Linked DNA regions of Homo sapiens: region 2 is linked to region 1. The links come from fine-mapping of genetic effects on gene expression. A gene starts in region 1. The other region holds a variant in brackets. All regions are shown on one strand. Distances are from middle to middle. Region 1 holds the start of BNIPL (BCL2 interacting protein like). Region 2 overlaps GABPB2 (GA binding protein transcription factor subunit beta 2).

What was found.
Region 2: its variant is fine-mapped to the expression of BNIPL in whole blood (TOPMed, PIP 0.98).

What each region holds. Positions count from the first base shown.
Region 1 is chr1:151,035,287-151,038,306 of GRCh38, forward strand. It overlaps BNIPL (BCL2 interacting protein like), which reads left to right and starts at 1,300. Exons shown (of 10, transcript NM_138278.4): 1 at 1,300-1,480; 2 at 2,281-2,376. The coding sequence starts at 1,440. PRUNE1 (prune exopolyphosphatase 1) reads left to right here. Exons shown (of 8, transcript NM_021222.3): 8 at 1-427.
Region 2 is chr1:151,111,650-151,114,409 of GRCh38, forward strand. All of the region lies in intron 7 of GABPB2 (GA binding protein transcription factor subunit beta 2), which reads left to right. It also overlaps the pseudogene RPS29P29. Among named protein-coding and RNA genes, the nearest start is that of SEMA6C, 34 kb to the right of the region's middle. The variant AT/A (reference allele first, on the strand shown) is at 1,432.

The sequences.
Region 1 (3,020 bases):
GGTGCTCAGGTTCACTTGATTGTCTGTATTTCTGTGTGGTTGTAGCAAGGACTCAGCCTCATGTAGCACGAATAGGGGTGTGGTTCATGGCGTGTTGACCCAGCAGAGCACTCCCTCCCACTAACTTGTTCTGCATGTGTAGAGTCTCCCCATTTTTTTTAACGCAACCCTTTCCCCTTTTTCCTACCCCACAGCTCTGTTCCATGTAAGTTGCCAACAGTTTCACTGAACAGTGGGGTATGTGATGGTTTTGGCATGACATCTTCAGTATGAGGGGGACAGTTTGACTTCACTTTGAGGGTGTGATGTCTGTAGCTATGTGGAAGGTAAAAATAGTGGTGTGATCATGAACCAAAGGAATTTATGTTTTGTAACTTGGGTACTTTATTTTGCATTTTGTTATACTATTAAATAATTTTTTCCTGTTTGGGGGTCTTACTGTCTTTTTTTACAAGTGTATTCAGGCCTTTCTCTGTGATAGTTGTTTCAGTCTCCTCAAAATTGATCCCCCTTCTTCCTACTATACTTAATGTCTTCTTTCTGTTGACTCTTTTTGGGAATAAGGAGCAACAGGCTTCTGTCTCCCCTCATCCTCAGCCTCCCGTTCAACTTGTTTATTCTCCCAGAAACCTCCTTATAACATACTTCCGTTTCCCCAGTTTTCCTTATGCTTGAAAAGTAGATCCAAGATAACAGTCCTAGAAACACACACAATGGTTTCTTTTTCTTTTTTTTTTTTTTTTTGAGATGGAGTTTTGCTCTTTTTGCCCTGGCTGGAGTGCAATGGCACAATCTCAGCCCACTACAACCTCTGCCTCCCAGGTTCAAGCGATTCTCCTGCCTCAGCCTCCCAAGTAGCTGGGATTATAGGCATGTGTCACCACGCCCAGATAATTTTTTTTTTTTTTTTTTTTTTTTTTTTTTTTTGGATTTTTAGTAGAGATGGGGTTTCTCCACATTGGTCAGGCTGGTCTCAAACTCCCGACCTCAGGTGATCCGCCTGCCTTGGCCTCCCAAAGTGTTGGGATTACAGGTGTGAGCCACCACGCCCGGCCAGAAACACAACGGTTTCTACTGGTTTTTTTGCTTATTTGTGTAAAGAGCAACTTTGAGAGGGATATATGGAGTCTGGAAAGGAGAACAAATTGCCTTCCTAGACTCAACCGAGACTGGCCCCCACTAGAAAATGCACTCTCCTCCCCAAAACCCGCCCCCTCACAGGAGGCAGGGTTTTTCTTTTGGGCAAACCTGCTCCTGGGGAGAGGAGTGGCAAAACCTGTTTTGAAGATGAGGTTACCTCCCTTCCACACCTCCCTCCTTGGAGGCAAGAGCTACAACAGCTGAGACAGAAAAGAGGTAAGGAAGTGTTGGGGGCTGGGACAACCAGCTCCCCAACAACTCCTAGGTGTTTAAAGAAGGAGGCAGGAAGACTTGTGAAGATGGGAACTATACAAGAGGCAGGAAAAAAGACAGATGTTGGGTAAGTAAGATCTTGGCTCACTTGATTGGTAACAGTGAATAAACAGTCCGGAGAGACTTCCCCACCACCCAGCTCTTACTGGGTCAAATCTCGGGTTCCTCAAGGAGACAAGACTGTAAGAGAGTTTGCAGAGAAGAGATGAGGGTGGTTTTAGGTAGGAAATGTCAGTATGGTATGGAACTGGGGAACAGGATTCCAGGATAATTCCCTGGTTTAAAAATAAAGGAAGTTTCTGTAATATGTTGTACCTGATAAATCTGCCTGTGTTCTTTTATTTTCTAACCCTCACCCTCCAGAATGGCCATCAGGAAAGCTGAACCAGAACCGAGTTTAGGTCCAGGTTCTCGTTCTGGCAAATCTTTCTCCTTACCTTCTTCCTCCACCCCTCCACTTATGCCATGTTTTCCCTTAGCCACTCCCCAGCTCGGTGGAGGAAAGGCAGGCCTAACTAGGTACCGTCTTCCCGACTTTGCTCAATGATAGCTGGGTGGGTCTAGCTGGGTTCCAGCCACTTGTAATGTGGGACATCTCTCACCCCAACTTTGTAGGTGGAGCAACTGCTACAGAGGTAAATATGATTAACTTTACATTCCATCTTTCGTCTGCTCCCAAACTTAACAGCAGGTAATCTGCTTCTAGCAAGTGGTGAAGGTAAGAGAAGCATCTGTATAGGAGGCAAGAGATCTGAGTCCTTTTGAAGGCCTATCCTCTGCTCTGTATCTCAATTACTGTTCTTCATTTCAATTATTCTTACCTACTATTCAGTTCCCTTGATCTTTTCTTCTTGGGGGCTGTCTTAGGGTCAGGGAGATTGCAGAAGCACCAGAACTAGGAGCAGCCCTGAGACATGGGGAGTTGGAGCTGAAGGAGGAATGGCAGGATGAAGAATTCCCTAGGTGAGGACGTGTGAGGGTGGCTGGGAGAAGGGAGGGGTGGTCACGAATGGACGGAGGGGATGGCGCGGCGGCTCATGGCTGTAATCCCAGCACTTTGGGTGGCCGAGGCGGGTGGATCACCTGAGGTCAGGAGTTTGAGACCAGCCTGACCAACACGGTGAAATCCCGTCTCTACTAAAAATACAAAATTAGCCAGGTGTGGTGGCACATGCCTGTAATCCCAGCTACTCGGGAGGCTGAGGCAGGAGAATCACTTGAACCTGGGAGGCAGAGGTTGTAGTGAGCTGAGATTGTGCCATTACACCCGAGCTTGGGCAACAAGAGTGAAACTCTGTCTCAAAAAAAAAAAAAAAAAAAAAAAAAAAAAGCAAATGGACACAGGGATGGTGAATTAGGACTTGAAGGAAAAAAATGGGAAAAAGAAAACAGAGGCCGGGCGTGGTGGCTGATGCCTGTAATCCCAGCACTTTGGGAGGCCGAGGCAGGTGGATCACTTGAGCTCAGAAGTTCAAGACTACTCTGGGCAACATGGCATAACCCCATCTCTACAAAAATACAAAATTTAGCCAAGTGTGGTGGTGCACACCTGTAGGCCCAGCTACTCGGGAGGCTGAGGTGGGAGGACCGCTTGAACCCTGGAGGTA
Region 2 (2,760 bases), 76 kb after region 1:
GATCCACCCGCCTCGGCCTCCCAAAGTGCTGGGATTACAGGTGTGAGCCACCGCGCCCGGCCTAATTTTTGTATTTTTAGTAGAGACAGGATTTCACCATGGTCTCGAACTCCTGACCTTGTGACCCACCTGCCTCGGCCTCCCAAAGTGCTGGGATTACAGGCATGAGCCACTGTGCCCGGCCTTTAATTTTCATATATGAAGAGCTAACATGGTTTTTAATTGGGTGCATGCCTTGGATAATCCATTCAAGAGAGATCACTTAGTCCAATTTAATGAAACCTATATCCTGTGGCTGGGCGCAGTGGCTCACACCTGTAATCCCAGCACTTTGGGAGGCCGAGGCGGGCGGATCACGAGGTCAGGAGATCGAGACCATCCTGGCTAACATGGTGAAACCCTGACTCTACTAAAAATACCAAAAATTAGCTGGGCGTGGTGGTGGGCGCCCGTAGTCCCAGCTACTCGGGAGGCTGAGGCAGGAGAATGGCATGAACCCGGGAGGTGGAGGTTGCAGTGAGCCGAAATCACGCCACTGCACTCCAGCCTGGGCGACAGAGCGAGACTCCATCTCAAAAAAAAAAAAAAAAAAAAAAAACCTATATCCTTCATGTACTGATGGAAAGGCTGACGGTATATATTGAGGCCATATTTCCGGATCAGACTGTGCTGATTTTTTCTTTTTGTTGTTGTTTTTGTTTTTGTTTTTTGAGATAGAGTCTCACTCTGTCGCCCAGGCTGGAGTGCAATGGTGTGGTCTCAGCTCACTGCAACCTCTGCCTCCCGGATTCAAGCGATTCTCCTGCCTCAGCCTCCTGAGTAGCTAGAATTATAGGCGTTTCCCACCATGCCCGGCTAATTTTTTGTATTTTTAGTAGAGACAGGGTTTCACCATGTTGGTCAGGCGGGTCTTGAACTCCTGACCTCATGATCTGCCGGCCTCGGCCTCCCAAAGCACTGGCATTACAGGTGTGAGCCACCGCACCTGGCCGACTATGCTGGTTTGAGCAGACATGACAAGAGCAAGAACCCTGGCCAAATTTTTGTGGGTGGCTCCAGTAGAGCTGCTGGTAACCCATCTTGCTCTCAAGAGTGCAACGAGGTAAAAGGAAGGAGCTCCCGAATTTTTTTTTTCTTTTTGAGACAGAGTCTCGTTCTATCACCAGGCTAGAGTGCAGTGGCATGGTCTCGGCTCACTGCAATCTCTGCCTCCCAGGTTCAAGTGATTCCCCTGCCTCAGCCTCCTGAGTAGCTGGGACTACAGGTGTGCACCACCACGCCTGGCTAATTTTTTTTTTTTTTGTATTTTAGTAGAGACAGGGTTTCACCATGTTGGCCAGGATGGTCTTGATCTCTTGACCTAGTGATGTGCCCACCTCAGCCCCTAAAGTGTTGGGATTATAAGCATGAGCTACTGCGCCTAGCCCCTCA[AT/A]TTTTTTTTTTAATAGAAATGAGGTCTTGCTAAGCTTCCCAGGCTGGTCTCAGACTCCTAGACTCAAGCTTTCCTCCCACTTTGGCCTCCCAAAATGCTGTGATTGGCCGGGTGCGGTGGCTCACACCTGTAATCCCAGCACTTTGGGAGGCCGAGGTGGACAGATCATGAGGTCAGGAGATCGAGACCATCCTGGCTAACGCGGTGAAACCCTGTCTCTACTAAAAATACAAAAAAATTAGCCAGGCCTGGTGGCGTGCACCTGTAGTCCCTGCTACTCCGGAGGCTGAGTCAGGAGAATGGGGTGAACCCCGGAGGCGGAGCTTGCAGTGAGCAGAGATCGTGCCACTGCACTCCAACCTGGGCAACAGAGGGAGACTCCAACTGCAAAAAAAAAAAAAAAAAAAATGCTGTGATTACAGGCATGAGCTACCGTGTCTGGCCAAATCTTCTGTTTTAAAATAATCATAATATATCCTAAAACGTAAATATAATTTTTAACTTTTTATTTTTAGATCATTAAAGATTCAGTACAGTTCTAAGAAATAATACAGAGAAATCTATTGCTGGGATTACAGGCACATGCCACCATGCCCACCTAATTTTTTGTATTTTTGGTAGAGACAGGGTTTTGCCATGTTGGCCAAGCTGGTCTCGAACTCCTGACCTCAGGTGATCCGCCCACCTTGGCCTCCCAAAGTGCTGGGATTACAGGCATGAGCCACCGTGCCCATCCTCTACTTTGTCATTTCAATAATGTTATATAAGTGGAATCATACAGTATACATGATTTTGAGATTGGCTTTTTTCCTTTCAGCATAATTCCCTTGATACCCATCCAAGTTGTTGTTTGAATCAATATTTCATTCCTTCTTATTGCTGAGATTATTCCATGATATGGATGTACCACAGTTTGTTTAACCATTTACCCAGTGAAGGACATTTAAGCTGCTTCCAGTTTCAGCTATCTAAAAATAAAACTGGCTGGGCACAGTGGCTCATGCCTATAATCCCAGCACTTTGGGAGGACTACGCCGGCAGATAGCTTAAGCCCAGGAGTTTGAAATCAGCCTGGACGATATGACGAAACCCATCTCTAAAAAAAAATACAAAAAAAAAAATATATTAGCCAGGCGTGCTTTTGTGTGCCTGTAGTCCCAGCTACTTGGGAGGGTCACTGGAGGCCAGGAGGTTGAGGCTGCAGTGAGACATAATTCTGCCACTGCACACCAACCTGGGTAACAGAGTGAGACTCTGTCTCATAATAAATAAATAAATAAATAAATAAAGCATTATGAACACCATAATTGTTTACAGGTTCTTATGGG